3 separate regions of the Homo sapiens genome follow, and all the other regions are linked to region 2. A link means that fine-mapping ties the variant in region 2 to the expression of a gene that starts in the linked region. Tissue or cell type: whole blood. Region 2 holds a variant in brackets; each other region holds the start of a gene. All regions are shown on one strand. Distances are from middle to middle.

Region 1 (6,132 bases), 210 kb before region 2:
TACCTCTAAAAAGGCGTTTATCTAATTGTATAATCCTCTAAGAAAGGTTTTAACAGTGGGCAGTTTGCATACTAATAAGAGATTTAAGCAATGCTCATTTCTTTACCCACAAATAATTCATCTGCTTAACAAATACTAAAGTGAAAAACTGTTTTTGTGTGAGAGTATTAAATTGGAAGATAAAAAGTGAAATGAAATTTGTTCCTGCAAGATCCTATTCCACTAAATTAAAACCCACATAAGTTTTAAATCAGTCACCAAAACCAAAATAAATGTGTAACACTTCCCTTTCTTCTGGTAGAGAAAAAAGAAGTAACATTAACTGAGCACCTACAATGTGCCAGTTCTTGACCCTCAACATATAGCCTCACTTAATCCCTTACAGCCAAGTAAACTAGGCAGCATCTCCATTTTCTTTTCTTTTCTTTTTTTTTTTTTTTTGAGACATAATCTTGCTCTGTCACCCAGGATGGAGTACAGCTGCTCGATCATGGCTCACTGCAGCCTCAACCTTCCAGGCTCAAGCAATCCTCCCACCTCAGCATCCGATTAGCTGGGACTACAGGCGTGTACCACCATGCTCAGCTAATTTTTGTATTTTCTGTAGACACAGAGTTTTGCCATGTTGCCCAGGATGGTCTCGAACTCCTGGGCTCAAGTGATTCTCTCACCTCGGCTTCCCAAAGTGCTGGGACTACAGGTGTGAGCCTCCGAGCCCAGCCAGGATCTCCATTTTCTGATTACAACTGAAGCTTAAAGAAATTAAGCACTTGTCTCAGGTCACTTAGCTAGTTACCGAATTTCCAGAATTAGAATCCAAGTCTGTCTGACCCAAAGTCTATGTTCTCTCCAAAAAGAGGTTAAAAGTACTATTATTTCATTACTTACCAAGACAGAGAATGGGTTTCTTCCCAAAGGAGACTGAAAACACTGCTTATTTTAACAACAAAAACATATTATCTCAGTTAATCCTCGCTATAGCTTATTAACTATTATTTTTATCCATTATAAATGATGAAACTAGAACTCAGAGACGTATTCATAGCTTGCCCAAGAACACACTGCTAGGAGGCAGCAGAACTACCCCAGGTCTGCACCAGCTGCACACACTAACCACAGAAAATGCAGAAAGACCTCAGCCATGTAGTACAAGCTTAAGGTCCATCCAAAGTATTAAAATAATCAGACCTTGTGCTTCTTGGGTAAAAAGGAACGGTATATATTATGTATGCCAATTCCCACTATCAATGATGAGGAGGTTGACTTTCTAGTAATATCCTATCTATCGAATGGCAACCTGAAGATCGGTAGCTAAATTTCAAGCCTATACTGGCCATTCTACTACACCAAATAATCTGGATTTGTTGCCAGTTAAAATTATTCTTAAAGTAGCAAACAACAGTACTATATTACAAAGCAAAGGTTTATGAAGAACAGTATGCTAAAATACGTAAGATAGGCCTGGCATGGTGGCTCATGCCTGTAATCCCAGCACTTTAAGTAGCTAAGGTGAGAGGACCACTTGAGTTCAAGAGTTCAAGACCAGCCTAGACAACATAGGGAGACCTCTTCTTCTACAAATAATAAAAAAATCAGCCGGGTATGGTGGCGCGAGCCTGTGGTCACAGCTACTCAGGAGGCTGAGGGGAGAGGATCACTTGAGCCCTGGAGGTAGAGGCTGCAGTGAGCTGTCATCGTGTCAGTGCACTCCTGCCTGGGGGACAGGGAGAAACCCCGTCTCAAAAAAATAAACTGGATAAACACTTAAGTGTTTGAAATACTTTCACGAATACTTTCACAGGAACAGATGAATAGAAATCACTTAGCAACATTTTCAAGGCAACATCTGAAAACTACTTTGTCTATTTCCTGACGTATGTTAGGGCCTAAGTGAACCAAAAGAGATGTCTACAATGCCAGTTCTGAAAATGTTACCACTTTGGTCAGACAAGTGTTTAGTCTTACTGTATAGTTCTGTTTATCAGAAACCCAGAGTAGCCTTTTCTACTGAGACTGGCACAGGTATATATTCCGAAGGAACTGTCCCATGTGTTTTTGATAAACCAAAGTGACGAATGAGAGGGTGGTTGAGTGTTAACATGCAACATAAAAGGATGGTTGTCATTATTCACTTTTTAACAAAAACTAGTGGCATGGTACAAACCCAAATCCAGAAAAAAACAGAATCACTCCATTGCAAAGTAACCAGGTAGAGACTTCCATGTTTGTTCATCCTACAACACGACTGTCATCTTTTAACCTCATGAAAACTACCCGAGTTCTTCAGCAAACTGTGCCGCTGCCGCATACAGACATCACTGTGGATCACTAAAAATCAGAATGCATCAAGAATTGCTTCCAAGCCTTAACTAGCACTAGCTCAGCTACAAACTCGGAGGTAAACAAGCACAGACTGACTGACTGTGGAGCGGGGCACTGTTTACTTACATGGGAAGACACTCATGTTGTGATGGGAAACGTGTTGCACTGTCCACCCCTAGCTCCTAGAAAAACGGTACTTTGACAAGCTAATGTGAGTGTAAGTCTATTCCCAAAAGTTTTTACCTCTCTTCTTAATCGCTTAAGGACAAATGCTCAAAAAAGGACGCCCGACACAAGGTGCCCGAGGTGCTACCCATGGCATTACCTGGAAGGACATCACTATGCCCATGAAACTGTCCCCTCACAGTGGACTAAAAGGAAGCAATAGATACCGTCATTCACCCTGGCGAAGGAAAAAGAAATCAAAACCAGACGCGCTTCCACCTGGCCCCAAGAGGCTTGGAGCAAGACTAGGGTCTAAGCTGCGGTTCAAAAACCACACCAGGCCCCTCCGCCTCTGCTCTCAAACGCAGCGCGGCGACACAGCAGAACCATCAACACCTCCACCTCTGTCCTCCAGGCACAGCCAGGGACTGCGTCCCAGAGCCCGCCCCGGTCGGGCCCGCCCCGCTATCTCCTCCCCCGTTATCCGCTCGCAGCCGCGCTCAGGCCTGGATTCGCCTCCCCACCCTCCCCAACTTCGGCACGTCCCACTACCCCACACACGTCGGCCGCCGCCCTCGGCGAGTCCGGGGAAGAAAGGCTGGAGGGCCGCAGGGCAAGGAATCCACTCAGCACGGTTCCTCACCTCTGGGTGGAGAAGGGGCACACAGCCCGCTTCGGTATCGTACTCATCCGGGCCGTCCGCCATCTTGGTGTTAAATCCCTCCTCCCGCTGCATGCTGGGAGAAAGCGTTTCACCCTCCCGGGGCTCGGGCGAGGCGGAGGGCGAGCGCGGGGCGAGCGCGAGCCCCGCCGGAGGCGACGCGGGCCTCCTCCTCCTTCTTCTCCTGCCCCCGTGACGCCCCCTCTGTCCCCTCCCCCCTCGGAGGGCGCGGGTTTCTCCGCGCGTGCGCGGAAGCGCGGCCCGGCCCCAGACTGGATCGCGCTCTGCTGCACTGCGCTGGGGACGGCGGAGGGCTCTGGGCGTGGGCCCCGCGGCTCGGGGGCGGGTCCCGGCTGGAGGTAGATGTGAAGCTCTGGCTGCCCGGGGGAGGCGGCCGGGCGGTTGAGACAGTCGCTTGGGAAACCTAGCAGCTGCTCAGGAGCGAGAACAGAGCTCCGGAGCCGCACGCAGCACAAGTCTGGAGCCCCAGGCAGCCGAGGAGCCCACGCCCACGCGCTCCCACTTCCGCTCCGGGACCCCCGGGACCCCTCTTCAGGAACTCGGGCAGAGTCGTCAGCCAGCTCCAGGGAGGTTTGGGCCCGTCAGGCTTGAGTCGAGACCTGCATCATTCCTGAAGACAAAAGCAGCTTCCCTTTCCTCCACACTTGAAAAGGTCACCCGCAACCTGTCCCTCCGGGGGACGCCCGGAAAAACATGGATACAACTCGGGACTTCCTACTAGAGAACCCTTTTTTTTTTTTTTTTTTTTTTTTTTTTTTTTTTAATGAGACAGAGTTTTGCTCTTGCCGCCCAGGCGGGAGTGCAATGGCGCGATCTCAGCTCACTGCAACCTCTGCCTCCCGGTTCAAGCGATTCTCCTGCCTCAGCCTCCCGAGTAGCTGGAATTACAGGTGCACGCCACCACGCCCGGCTAATTTTTGTATTTTTAGTAGAGACGGGTTTTCACCATGTTGGCCAGGCTAGTCTCGAACTCCTGACCTTAAGCGATCCGCCCGCCTCGGCCTCCCAAAGTGCTGGGATTACAGGCTTGAGTCACCACACCCTGCCGAGAACTCTTTTTAAAATGATCCCAACCTGCTCTCAATCGTCTTGAATTAGTACCACACAAAAAATTTACGAGCTCAAAGCCCACACACCGCCATCTGCAACATTTCGATATAATCCAGGAATTCAGAACTGAAGCCACTTAAACTGAATTCGCTTAAATGCAAGGCAGATAAAATGACTAAAGCCATTTTTTAAAGGATTTTAGGGCGGTATGGGGGAGGTGCTCCCTGTAAATGGGCTGATGGGACAGTTTTAGATAGCATTTGTCTTTCCTTTTAGCTGTTAAAAATTGTAAGTCTAAACAGCTGAGAATTTAGCAGAGATCATGAAAGTTGACCTATTAGAGATCCTGGTACTTACTAATCTGTCTCCTGTTAGGCCAGAAACCACCAGGAAAAAGCCTGTACTCCGATAACGTCAGGCCAATTTGTAAATCAGGAGGGAGGGCACTCCAAAGGAAGCTTGGAATGCCACTGGAAAAGGAAAGAGGAAGCCTCCTTTGTAAGATTAGTTTCCCGCCAAAGGAGTCTGAGGAGGGTCTAAGGAGAGCCAGAATCAGTTCTGCATGGGACGCCGTTTCCGTGGCGGCATGAAGAAAAGCTGGGATTTACGAGGGATTGGATGCTGTCTTGAGGATACAGCAATTTAGTAATTAGGTACCTCCAGTAATAAAGTAGCAACACTAGTAAGAGCAGCAGTTACTCAAAGAGGGGTGAATATGGCGTGTCATAGCTACTGCACGGCTGTGGGAGAAAGAAGTTTCTCAGTTAACTTTGCTGCTGGCTTTTTCTGTATCTGTCCTCCCAGCACAACTACTTTTTCTCATTTCAGTCCGAGCTGATTTTCATTCTGTTCGTCCTGGCCCAAACTAGGAGTCATCTTTTACAGCTAGATAGTCTCAGGGTCGGCCCTTGGAGCATCGAATTGTTTTCAGTCATATGTTAACATGGACATAAGTCATTTTCACTCAAAAATCTCAATTTTTTTTTTTTTTTTGAGACTGAGTTTCACTCATGCCCAGGCTGGAGTGCAATGGCTCGATCTCGGCTCACTGCAACCACCACCTCCCAGGTTCAAGCGATTCTCCTGCCTCAGCCTCCCAAGTAGCTGGGATTACAGACATGCGCCACCATGCCCGGCTAATTTTGTATTTTTAGTAGAGACAGGGTTTCTCCATGTTGGTCAGGATGGTCTGGAACTGCCGGCCTCAGGTGATCCACCCGCGTCTGCCTCCTAAATTGCTAGGATTACAGGCGTGAGCCACCGCACCCAGCCAAAAATCTCAATTTTTTTTTTTTTTTTTTTTTTGAGACGGAGTCTTTCTTGCTCTGCGGCCCAGGCTGGAGTGCAGTGGCGAGATCTCAGGTCACTGCAACCTCTGCCTCCCAGATTCAAGCGATTCTCCTGCCTCAGCCTCCTGAGTAGCTGGGATTAAGGGCGCGCCACCATGCCCTGCTAATTTTTGTATTTTTAGTAGGGATGGGGTTTCACCATGTTGGTCAGGCTGGTCTCGAACTCCTGACCTCGTGATCCACCCACCTCGGCCTCCCAAAATCTTGGGATTACAGGCGTGAGCCACTGCGCCCGGCCAAAAATCTCAATTTTGAATCTTGCCCTTCCTTACCTTTATGTCTTGCATTGACTAGAAATAGAAGATTAGAGTAAATAAAGGACACCGACTGAAAAAGTTAAGTGGCATAAATATTAATAAAGCATTGAATGAAGTGAGAGTGTAAAGAAACTAGGCATGGAAAACTGGAGAAAATGTTTCAGGTACCCATGTATTAGGAATATTGGTACAGGTATATGATGTGGAGTATTCATAAAAGAAATGTTTAGCCTTCCCTGCGAAAATCAGTAAATCAGAGTTCACTTTAAAATCTAGAGTTCTAGTTCATCTGGCAAACAAGCCATCT
Region 2 (6,132 bases):
TCACTGCAACCTCTGCCTCCCGGTTTCAAGTGATTCTCATGCCTGAGCCTCCTGAGTAGCTGGGATTACGGGTGCATGCCACCATGCCCAGCTAATTTTTTGTATTTTTAGTAGAGATGGGGTTTCACCATATTGGCCAGGCTGTTCTCGAACTCCTGACGTAAAGTGATCCACCTGCCTCGTCCTCCCAAAGTGTTGAGATTACAGGCGTGAGCTACCTCCTCTGGCCTTTTTTTTTTTTCTTCTGATACAGGGTCTTGAGCTGTCACCTAGGCTGGAGTGCAGTGGCACTCACTACCATGGCTCACTGCAGCCTCGACCTCCCAGGCTCAAGTGATCCTCCTGTCTCTGCCTCCCAAGTAGCTGGGACTACAGGCGAATACCATCACACCTGGCTAATTTTTAAGTTTTTTTTTTTTTTTTTAGAAACAGAGTCTCACTATGTTGCCCAGCTTGGTCTTGAACCCCTAGCCTCAAATGATTCTCCCACCTTGGTCTCCCAAAGTGCTGGGATTATAGATGTGAGCTGCCATGCCAGGCCTATTTAGTGATATTTGAGGGACACAGATCTGTACAGTTGAAATCTGTCCTGTTGAGATGACCACCAGTAAGGTAATTTTTGCTTTTTGGCTGCCAAATGCCTACATATTAGCAGGAATAGTTTGTCAGATTACATAATTTTTTACAAGGAAGGCTGGGGCCCATGTGGAAATTATGGAATCTATGTTGGTATATTTTGATGGGATGGAAGTATGGTAGATCTGGAGAGAGAGAAGTTCAATCTAAGTAACATTATTACCGGGTAGAGTAATGAGGTGGGGTGCTTTGGATGTGAGGGCACAGGTACATTGTTCAAGTGGAGAGTAGGATGAGGGACTTCTGGAGACTAGCTTTGCTTAGTGTGTAATTTTGTGCATTGTTATGATTATAATAACTTGTAAGATCAGCAATTTGGAAGTAAAGAAAAGCAGTGCTGTGCATCATAGTGTGGAGTTTGTAATAGTTCTAGGCTGTTTTGCAAGATGTAGGTGCTTTACAAATATCCATTGGTAGTAATGGAAGTGCTCTGTCTTATCACCTATTTTAGAAATCTGGAGAGGCAGAATAGCACGAACCCTGGAGCCAGACTGCCAAAGTTCAGAACTGGTACAGCCACTTACTAGCCTATTGCACTGGCCCTATGCTGACTTGGGGTGGCCAAAAGGGAAGAAAATGGCATATTTAAGCAGAGAGGGGGCCAGAGATAGCACTCTGTGAGTTTTCCATGGTTCTTACATGGTCTGAAAGAGATCTGGATGTTCTCACATATGACTAGTGAAGGAAATAGAAGTTAGTAGAGTGAGAGCCAGGAAGCCTGTCATTAGGCTGCTATTGTGAGGGAGGGACCATGTAGTAGACAGAGGTTGTGGGAAGGGCAGATTCATTTCATTGCCCACAAAAATTTGTGCTCCCTCTTGCTTGCAACATTTTTTTTTTTTTTTTTTTTTTTTTTTTGGAGACATGGGGTATCGCTCTGTTGCTCAGGCCAGAGTGCAGTGGCAGGATCTTGGCTCACTGCAACCTTCGCCTCCTGGGCTCAAGTGATTCTTGTGCCTTAGCCTTCCGAGTAGCTGGTACTACAGGGATGTGCCACCGTGCCTGGCAAATTTTTTGTATTTTTGGTAGAGATGGGGTTTCACCATGTTGCCCAGGCTGGTCTCTAACTGCTGAGTTCAAGCGATCTGCCCGCCTCAGCCTCCCAAAGTGCTGGCATTACAGGTGTGAGCCACTGTGCCTGCCACTAGTTTTTCACTAGTGAATGTGAATAGAAATCAATTTGTTGTCACTTCTGGGTTGAAGTGGCAGAAAAAATAGGTATTCTTTCTTCACCTTCTCTTTTCTAATTCAAGGGCCAGATGCAGAGGTTTAGGCTCTTAAGGGATAGTAAAACCATAAGATTGGAATGTTCTACAGTCCCTAAATTTACCATGTGAAAGAAATTTGTGTACCAAATAGGAATACCCACAATGGATTGTAATATTAATGAGAAATTTTAATTGTGTGAAGCTACCGAAAATCTGGGGTTTATTTGTTAAGCAGCTAGTGTTGCCTTAAGTATAAGCCAGGGACTGGATAGACGAGGTAGTCGAGACTGTAATAATATCCGTACCAGCAGGAGCTGAGGTGGGTGGGGCCAAGTTAGGAGATCCTCTGGATACTGTTCCAACATATTCATCAGCATGTGCCATTGTGACTCTGTGAGGGCCAATATTCAAACCTTAGAGGCCTGTGAGGATCCCCAGGGCAATCCATGGGTCTGTATTCAGGCTAATCATAATACTCCAGATGCCCATGAAAGCTTTATCTTACGCCCAGTCACCATGATAAGAATGAGGAACAGAGAAAATCTATACAAGTCTGAAGAGTTTTCTTAAAGTAGGGTTTCTTAACTTGACTCTGTTGATATTTTGGGCTGGATAATTCTTTGTTGTGTGTTCCTGTGCATTGTAGAATGTATAGCACCATCCCTGGCCTCTACTCACTAGATGCTAGTACCATCTTTCTTAATTGTGACAATGAAAAATGTTTCAAGATATTGCCAGATGTTCCCTGGGGACAAGGTCACTCTCAGTAGAGAACTACTGCTTTAAAGATTGAGTGAATGAGTGAATCTGAAAGAAATGATTTTAAATGGAAAGAAACTATTATCCTTAATTAAAGAACTTTTTCCCCTTTTAGGGGTTGGGTAAGGTTCATGGGGAGCAGTTCATTTCTGTATATCCAATAAAGGAAGCTATGTT[GTTT/T]TTATAAAACATCCTAGTTTCTAGTGTGTGTGTGTGTGTTTTCCTCTCTTCCTTGATATACTATATATATGTTTGTATTATTTTTTGAGTGACAGAGTCTCCTCCTGTCTCCTGCACTCCAGGCTGGAGTGCAGAATTCCTGAGCTCAAAGGATCCTCCTGCCTCACCTTCCCCAGTAGCTAGGACTACAGGTTTGTGCCACTGTGGCTGGCTACTTTATTTTTTTTGTACAGACAGGGTTTCGCTATTTTGCATAGGCTGAATTTGAACTCCTGCCTCCCAAAATGTTGGGATTACAGGCATGAACCCTGGTACCCAGCCTTAATGTTGATTCACCTTTCTCTTTATCAGCTTTAGAAATTACTTGAATTTTCCATTTATTACCTTGTGATTATTTCTTCTAAACCAGTAGCTGTACTTTTTATTGGCTAGACTAAGCTTGTCCAATCCCTGGCTGGTGAGCTGCGCACGGCCCAGGACAGTTTTGAATGCGGCCCAACACAAATTCATAAACTTTCTTAAAACATAAGGAGATTTTTTTGTTTTTTAAAGCTCATCAGCTATTGTTAGTGTTAGTGTATTTTATGGGTGGCCCAAGACAATTCTTCTCTTCCAGTGTGGTCCAGGGAAGCCAAATGATTGGACACCCCTGGCCTAAACAAATACACGTTTTTTCCCCTGTAATCTCAGCTGTCATGTCCACAGGTTGTCTCTAAATTATGAAAACCAATAAATAGTGTTGATACCATGACTGTGTAAGTATTATTTAATGCTAAGCCAGATAATGTGCTTAGATGATTATTCCTTTTCTGTCCCTGGGCTGCCAGAAGAAACATGTTGATAATATAGAGAATTAGTAGACTTTATTTATTTTATCAATTCTGACCATCAAATTAAAAAAAAATTTGGATATGACCAAAATCTAACTTTGGAATTAAAAAAGTTTTTGAATAGGACTTCCTGTTTTTCTTAGTGTCTTAAATTGCCCTCTTTTCTTGTACTATATGCCTCTATTATAGCCTCCCCTACACCCCAGCCCCCCCACACCCCAACTCTTCAGCATACTGCCTTTTGTGCTGCATTCTCTATTTATCTGTATTTGTCTGTAACTCTGCCTCCATTTGGACTCTTCTAGGTCTTTTCTTGTAACTTCCTTTCTCCTTACTCTTGAATTGGATCCATTCTGTTATACATATTTTTTTTTCCTTTTTTTTTTTTGCATCTGCTTGATCTGTTTATTGGAGTACATCTTCAAATAACTCTTTGAAAAAGAAGTATGTATGAGAGGCAAACTTTCCGAATTCTGTGTAAAAAAGTCTCCATTCTATTCTCACAAATGATTGATAATTTGGCTGGGTACAATATTGTTAGTTAGAAATAATTTTCCTTTAGAACCCTGAAAGGATTGCTTTGTTGTCTTCTAGCATCTAGGGATGCTGATTAGAAGTCATACATCAACGCCTGTAATCCCAGCACTTTGGGAGGCCGAGGCGGGTGGATCATGAGGTCAAGAGTTTGAGACCAGCCTGGCCAACATAGTGAAACCCTGTCTCTACTAAAAATTAGCTGGGCATGGTGGCAGGTGCCTGTAATCCCAGCTACTTAGGAGTCTGAGGCAGGAGAATCACTTGAACCTGGGAGGTGGACGTTGCAGTGAGCCGAGATCAAACTACTGCACTCTAGCCTGGGTGAGACTCCGTCTCAAAAGAAAAAAAGAAGGAGTCATGTATCAGTCTGATTCACTATCCTTTTAAGGTGATTTGTTCTTTATTCTGTCTGAAAACTTTTAGAATCCGTTCTTTTGTATCTTCTACAAAGTCATAATGAGGTGTATAGGTCATTTTTGTTTTGTTTGGCTGTTTGTCTAGATACTCAGTTGCTCTTACAGTCTGAATCAGATTATTTTTCCAATTCCAGGAAACTCTTCTCTGTCTTTAATAATTTCCTCCCTTCATCATGTTTTTTGCTTTTCAGTAGGCAGTTGCTTTCTGTCTTGATCTTCCTTCTCTCATCTTTTATATTTTGTGGGTTTTTTTTCCCCTTTAGTATTTTGGCTGATTTTCCTGGGGGTAATCTGTAAGTTTTGTTGTTCTCTTTTTCTTTTCCCACCATTTTTACACTATGTTGTATTGTCGTCTTGAGTCTTAGAATGTGCAAATTAGATTTTTTTAAAGATACCTTGTGTCTCCTTGTGTCTAATTTATCTCCTTTTCTCCTCCGGTCAGTTTTTATGTTTGTTTTTGTAATCATTCTTTTTTCATGCTCAGTTTTCCTTATGTGCCTGATAATTCTTGGTTGTCCATTCATGGTTAAGAAAGACAGACTAGGTTCCTGGTCACCCTCCCTCCCCTGTTCCTTGGACTGTTTTCCCTATTAGATTTTTTTTTCTTTGAGTAGGAATTCTGGCCAGAGCACTTTGTGGGGCAAGGTAGTACAGAGTAGGATCTGTCTCTTGGCAGATTGTTTTAGGGTAAAAGAGAGAGGAGCTAGCTGCTAGGCTATGTATGGGCCCTTTAAATGCTGGATGAGATGTGTTTACTCTGTGCCACACCTCCGCTTAGCTTTCCCTAGATAGTGGTTCACTTTCTTTAGGGAAAAGCTGACTTGTTTTTTTGCCTGGAGGTAAAATGTCAGTTGTTTAGAAACTGCTTGGAAATAGGGGATGGGAGATATAGCTGTCCCTTATAGTTAGTCAAGTAATACTCAGTTCTCTTATTTTTAACCCTACTATTTATTTCCACCCTCTGCTGTACCATTTACTTTATAATCATGCTTTCCTGGGGATCTTCTCAGACGTATTGGTTCCCATCCTTTCCATGTCACTCTTAAAGGTTATAATGAGGCTGTGGCTTTTTCCGCTTGTTATTTCTATCAATCTCACATATACTTTCATTTCCCAGAAATTTGTTGGATTTTCTTTCTAGCCTCAATTTTAATTTCTTTACTGTTACGATTTTCTTTCTTTTATGAGTTGTTTTTATTTCAGTGGAGTATCTGGAGTAACTGAAGGGAAAGTTTGTATTTAGCGCCCCATCTTTTATTAGAAGTCTTCTTCTAGCTTCATAAACAGAAGAAACAGAGCCTATTGAACTATTTTTTTGTTAATGCAGATTTATTCATAGAAATTATGATGATCATGATACAGTGTTAAAATACACTTATGTCCCTTCACTATTGATTTGTATAGTTGTTTGTGCCTTTATGCCGCTTGGTCCTAAAACTTGAACTCTGAATTCTTGCTTGCTTCATAGTTTTTGTTTCCCCTTTCGTTGTCCCCTACCCCAACTTGCATGTTGTTATGATTATCTTGCCATTTCTTGTTTGCTACTTGGAAACTGAATGAAACTGT
Region 3 (6,132 bases), 470 kb after region 2:
CCAAAAGTTTCACAGCTGGGCAAGGTGGCTCATGCCTGTAATCCCAACACTTTGGGAGGCTGAAGTGGGAGGATCTCTTGAGTCCAGGAGTTCAAGACCAGCCTGGGTAATATACCAAGATCCCTCTTGACTTAAAAAAAAAAAAATTTTTTTAAGTTTCACAACAGCCCTATGAAAAATGCATGCTTATTTTCCCCATTTTACAGATGTGGAAAATGAAACCTGGGATGGCTAACTGACTTATCCAAAGTTACACAGCTATTAAGTGGTAGAAAAATGGGGACAAAATAGGCTGTTTGACTCCAAAGCCACCCCTCTAAGCCTCCAGGCTACAATGCTATAAAAGTCTACCAAATGAAAATCATGGGAGATAGAGAAAAAAGGACCTTTAATTTTAGTATATATGCTTCCAAAGAGAGCATGAGAAAAGGAACTGCAACAGAAAATTTCGCATGGCCCAAGATCAGTGACCAGGGTCACCATTTATTGCAATTAAGTTAGATGAGTTAACTACATTGTGTGATTTGGGGGTATAAGAGGGGCCAATGTAAAAAGCTCAAAGGTGGCCGGATGCAGAGGCTCACACCTGTAACCCCGGCACTTTGGGAGGCTGAGGCAGGCGGATCATTTGAGGTCAGGAGCTCGAGACCAGACTGACCAGCATGGTGAAACCCCATCTCTACTAAAAACACAAAAAAACTAGCTGGGCGTGGTTGCGCCTGCCTGTAGTCACAGCTAATCGGGAGGCTGAGGCAGGACAATTGCTTGAAACCGGGAGGCAGAAGTTGCAGTGAGCCGAGATCGCGCCACTGCACTCCAGCCTGGGCAACAGAGTGAGACTCCGTCGAAAAAAAAAAAAAAAAAAAGCTCAAAGGTATCTTCAGGTCAGTCACCTCCTACCCCTTTTCTCATTTTATTTTCTTTATAGCATTCACTTATCAATTATTTATTATTGATAAGTGAAATTGTTTTATTACTAATATTTTATTAGTAAAATTATTTTATCTCTAATCATTTGCCTCACCTCACTAGACCATAACTTCAATAAAATCAAGAACCGTGTCTTTCTTACTAAATGCTGTATTTCCAGAGTCCGAAGTTGTGCCTGACATAAATATTTGTTGAATGAATGCATAAATGTCTGCCCTTCCCTGAACTTTAATGGCAAAGACTTAGATTTACAAACTGGTTCAAAAGACTATATTACAAAGGCATGCATTATTAGAAATATTTTATTGTTTAGTTTCTTAGATTGGCTAGGATACACTGAAAAAAGAAGAGGAAGCTGGAGAAAAGGGGGAAAGAGCATATGTACTGGTAATGATAACACCTAAGTTATAGGGGTTGGTGGGGGGGTGGTGAAACCTAAAAAATCCAGAGCCTTCATGAGCGAAGTGCCGAAAATTGATGAGGCTCTCTGGTGTGGGATAAAAACCACCACAAAAGCTAACTTCTCAATTTTGTCTCAGAAATTCTGCTACCATAAAGATTTATGGAAAGAAAGTGAAAGTTATTTAGTTCATTTTAATATGCTAATTACCTTGCATCGTGCACAGCTTTGATTAAAATGCAACATTCCTGAAGTTCTTATTGAAATTAATGTGTCAAATTTATGTTCAAACTGAGCACTGGTCTACCTTGTTTATGTATAGTGGGTTCTTCCTGAAGATCCATTATTGATGCTATTATGCTCCTTGTATCATTACATCATTGTTGAGAAGGGTGTACAGGAATAGGCTATGAGAACAACAAAGGAATTGTATATGAAAAACTAAAATGAATGAATAAACAGAGTCGTCTGCAGTATAGAGTGGGAAGGCAAATAATTTCAATGAGGTTCTGGAGGGCCAAGGAAAACATTGTATCCCCTAAAACGGAAGATAAAGTTGCTAAATGTGTGGATTACAATAGGGGATTCTAGGCAGTTTGAAGTTTCAATAAATGCAAGATTTAGAGAAGAGGTTCTCAAACTTTGTGGTCTTAGGATTCCTTTACACTCCTTTAAAAGTTGAGGACCCCAAAGAACTTTTATGTGCATTACTGATACTGATATTTATATCAGAAATTAAAAGTGAGAAATTTTAAGAGTATTTCATTTAAAAACAATAAAGCAATCAAATATTAACAAAAAATAATTTTTATATGAAAAATAACTACTCCCCCTTGCCCCCAAATCGAGTTTTTGCAAATCTCTTTAACGTCTGGTTTAACCGCAGATGACTGGATTCTCCTATCTGCTTCTATTTTCAGTCTGTTTCCTTATCACATGTCACGTAGCCTCCGGAAAACCCCACTGTACACTTGTGAGAGAATGAGAATGCAAAAGGCAGTCTTGACATTAATATGGAAATAGTTTTGACCTTCCCCATGAAAGGGTCTGGGGACCCTCAGACCATACTCTGAGAACAACTTTTTGAGTTAGTATTAGTCAATTCATCATCACTTGAAAATTAGCTATGAGGTTTTACAAGCCTGAGGATTTAATGTGATTTACTTTTTCAGAAAGATGAAACAACGGACGTACTGAGTGTCCTCATTATAACGCATCCAGAGAATGCACAAATATGCCATTTTCATCCGTCAAAAGAACTGAAGCCGAACTGACGGACTGTACATCAGTTACGAGGATGTGGCGGGGGGTTGGGGGGCAAAGGATGACGAGCACCCCCTAAAGGCGCGGAGACCCGCTGGCATAGGAGAAGCAAAACTGTCAGAAGAGGCCGCCGAAGTGGTCTAGAGGAAAAAACTGTTTTTCTTAGGCGGGGAAGGAAAACGGTTACCGGGGGCCGGCGAGTTGCAGGAATTAGGCCTTGACAGGGAGCGTCCGCCGTCTAGGCTGCGGCGAGCGAGGGACCAGGCGACTGGCGCCAGCCCTGAGCGTTCCCAGCACAACGCCGAAGGGGGCGGGGCGGGCCGGGCGCCGGGCACGCGGGCCAGGCCTTCCCCACAACTGATGGGGTTGAAATTTCCTTTCCGGCTCAGCAGGGAGAAAAGATATGGTGGGGTGCTTAACAGAGGAGGTTAGACACCGGCGGGAACCAGAGGAGCCCAAGCGCGGCGCCTGGGCCTCGGGGCTGCAGGAGTCCTCGGTGGGGGTATGGAGGTCGCCGGGGAAGGAGGACGGTTCAGTTGCTAGGCAACCCGGCCTGGACCCGCCTCTCGCTCGCGTTGCTGGGAGACTACAAGGCCGGGAGGAGGGCGGCGAAAGGGCCCTACGTGCTGACGCTAATTGTATATGAGCGCGAGCGGCGGGCTCTTGGGTCTTTTTTAGCGCCATCTGCTCGCGGCGCCGCCTCCTGCTCCTCCCGCTGCTGCTGCCGCTGCCGCCCTGAGTCACTGCCTGCGCAGCTCCGGCCGCCTGGCTCCCCATACTAGTCGCCGGTAACGGATGGGGGCCTGGAAGGGAAGGGGGAACGTGGTGTTGGCTGGGCGGCCTGCGCAGATGGGAGGGCCGGAGGGATGGAGGGACTGGGAGCCGGGAGTCGGGGCCGCTGGCCGCCCGTGGCCTCCGGGGTCGTCCTGTGAGGTCGGACAGGACCGCGGAGTCCGGACCCCGGAGCCTGAGAGGGGCCCCGGGGCCGACCAGCGCTTTTATCGGGGACGGCTGAGGCGACGTAGGGGTTGGCGCGGCCTGGAGGCCTAAGGTTCTCTGAGCTCCACCGTCTTTTCCGCGTGGACCGGAGCGAGGCCGCGGTGACGCCCGGGTGCCCTGAGACTCGGCTGCGCCGCGAGGACCGGGAGGCCCCCGGCGTACGGGCCGGGCCGAGTGCAGAGCCGGCCGCCTCTTGGACACCCCCCTGCTTTTCCCTCAAAAATAATACCAGGAGGGAGGCCGCTGGGAGATGAAAAGAACGGCGGAGGCTGCGAATTCCGACGGGAGGGAGGGGCTGTGGAGGGACGAGTCCCCGAGGCGGGGAGGGGGCGGGGGAGGCTGCGACGCTCCCGGGCTCTCCGCCCATTGGGGGCGGCCGCGCGGGGAGGGGAAACCCCCGGCGGCTTCGCTCCACACGTGGTAATGGGCTTCATGGCCACTGGCTGGGCCTGGTTGGAGACCCTTGCCCTCGGTCTGTGCTTACTTTGAAAGTTGTAGAGACGGTGGAATGTGAAAAGGAAGGGTAAGCGAGTAAGCCCTGTCCCTGGGTTTCAAACTCTTCCCTGCTTCTCTTTGGTCTTAATCTTTTTATTGGTACCAGAGATTGTGGATGTTAGCTGATGATAAGGAAGGGCCTCCACTGCTAGTATTTTAAAAAGTTAACGCGTATATAGCGCTTATATTAACTGTTATTAGCAAAAGGTTGTTATTGTGTTTCCCAGGTACTGTTAGATGGGTGTCTTGATCAGGGTTTTTTATTTGGGGAGTATTGATCCTGATCGATCTAAACCCCTAAACCAAGCTTGTCCAACCCGCGGCCCAGGACGGCTTTAAATGTGGCCCAACACAAATTCATGAGGTTTTTTTTTTTTTTTTTTTTTTGGAAAAAAAAGCTCATCAGCTAGTTAATGTATTTTACGTGTGGCCCAAGACAGTTCTAGTGTGGCCCAGGGAAGCCAAAAGATCGGACCACCCCTGCAAACGGTTCTTAGATGAAAATAAAATGTTTGGCCCTTTATGACTTTAATTGTTCTTGGCTGTCTTATAAATTAGTTCCTTTATTGAAGTCACTAGAATAAGATACTTAACGGTTTCCTTTTTAAGATGGGAGGTGGGATGGAATGAGGTGTTAGTATAAACTTTGCCAAGTTTGTAGCCTGCAACCTTGTCAATGAACCCTACTGCCCTAAAGATCTGGGGGATGGCAGTGTAGGGGGGCTGGGACTGAGGTCCCATCTGGGAAGGCTAGACTTTGAGAGTGCAAAAAGGATGAACCAGGCGCAGGATGTCCTCAAGGAGCCCGTATTTTAGACGGTCACTGATCAGTTTTGAAACAACTACATTTTAAAAATCTCACTGCTACATTTGAAGATATCCCACTGCTGCATTTTAAAATTTACACTGCTTGCCTGGTTTCACAAGAGCTGTAAAATGAAATTTGGCCTTTTGAAAATAGGTGGATTCAAAACATCTTTGGAAACGAGTATCTGGGTCCTCTTTTTTTGGTCAGCTTAAATTAATACTCCTATACTTTGGAAGTAATATACATTACCTTTGATTGAATAAGGGAAAAACCTTTTATGTATAGGGTACCATTTAAAAATCGAAGGGAAGTAAATGACTTTTACAGTTATTTTCAAGGCACTCTTGTGTTTCAAGCTTGTTTGAAGTTGCCCAAGTTTAAATAAATGGCCTAAATCTATAGTTTAGTTCTAAGAATACTGTCCTTTGGAGAATGTATGGAACTAAACCCTGGTAGGTGGACTTGGACATCTTCTGTCATAAAACCTGACTTTCATAGATTCTCCAAGTCAACATTATGTTAGTAAATAGAAATTTAAAAGTTTTCACTATACCAATTTGAATATCTTTCTAAATTTTATCTGCTACAAAGTGCCTATTTTTATATTAGGCCCATTGATTTGCAGAATTATAAAGCTAATACTGAATATGGTAAATTACTGCACTTGGCCTTTAATGAGATTTTTGAAACGAATACCTGTACCATAACTAATGTAATCCAAAATGCCATCTCATTTTATTCAGCTTGCTCCTGTTGGCTCCTGGTAAAACTGAGTTGATTCTAAATTCTCAAAATATATTCAAAACTAAGGGTCTTTTTGTAGAAGGGGCTAAAGAAGCAGTATCTGTTGGACTTCAAAGGTCTGAAGATGTCAAAATACAATATTTTATTCACTTCTTGGTTGTAAATTTGAAACAAAGGATTAGAGAGAATGACTCATCAATATCAAAATATTAATGATCAGTGTATTCAGATCTTCAAGTTTAATCAAACCTGTAATTGTGTTCTCAGTTTAGTCTTTGGGTAACTATCTAGCACCTGTATGGACATGTATCTTATGTCATGAGCAAAAGAGGCAAATTGGTTGCTTAGATGTAGAATGTTAAATTGTGATGAGAGCTATAAAGGAAGGAAAGGGTAAAGGGGTCAAAGAGTAATACAGCGTTTACACAAAGGAACCTGTTATAATTTGATGATTTTAAGTTCCATTTCAAACTAGTTTCATCTAAATAAGTTT

What was found. PIP is the estimated chance that this variant, and not a neighbour inherited with it, causes the effect.
Region 1: it holds the start of ZDHHC17, and the variant in region 2 is fine-mapped to the expression of ZDHHC17 in whole blood (TOPMed, PIP above 0.99).
Region 3: it holds the start of NAP1L1, and the variant in region 2 is fine-mapped to the expression of NAP1L1 in whole blood (TOPMed, PIP above 0.99).

Annotation. Positions count from the first base shown.
Region 1 is chr12:76,761,328-76,767,459 of GRCh38, reverse strand. It overlaps ZDHHC17 (zDHHC palmitoyltransferase 17), which reads right to left and starts at 3,345. Exons shown (of 17, transcript NM_015336.4): 1 at 3,131-3,345. The coding sequence starts at 3,223. RefSeq lists enhancers at 2,998-3,147, 2,339-3,181, 3,157-3,451, 3,748-3,847 and a silencer at 3,198-3,607.
Region 2 is chr12:76,547,791-76,553,922 of GRCh38, reverse strand. The region is part of intron 1 of OSBPL8 (oxysterol binding protein like 8); the gene reads left to right. Among named protein-coding and RNA genes, the nearest start is that of OSBPL8, 8.9 kb to the left of the region's middle. The variant GTTT/T (reference allele first, on the strand shown) is at 2,781.
Region 3 is chr12:76,081,816-76,087,947 of GRCh38, reverse strand. NAP1L1 (nucleosome assembly protein 1 like 1) reads left to right here and starts at 3,263. Exons shown (of 15, transcript NM_004537.7): 1 at 3,263-3,381. It overlaps LOC124902970 (a long non-coding RNA gene), which reads right to left and starts at 2,863. Exons shown (of 2, transcript XR_007063379.1): 1 at 2,781-2,863; 2 at 1,215-1,737. RefSeq lists silencers at 2,829-2,988, 3,429-3,508, 3,649-3,698, 3,769-3,828, 3,879-3,948 and an enhancer at 2,992-3,533.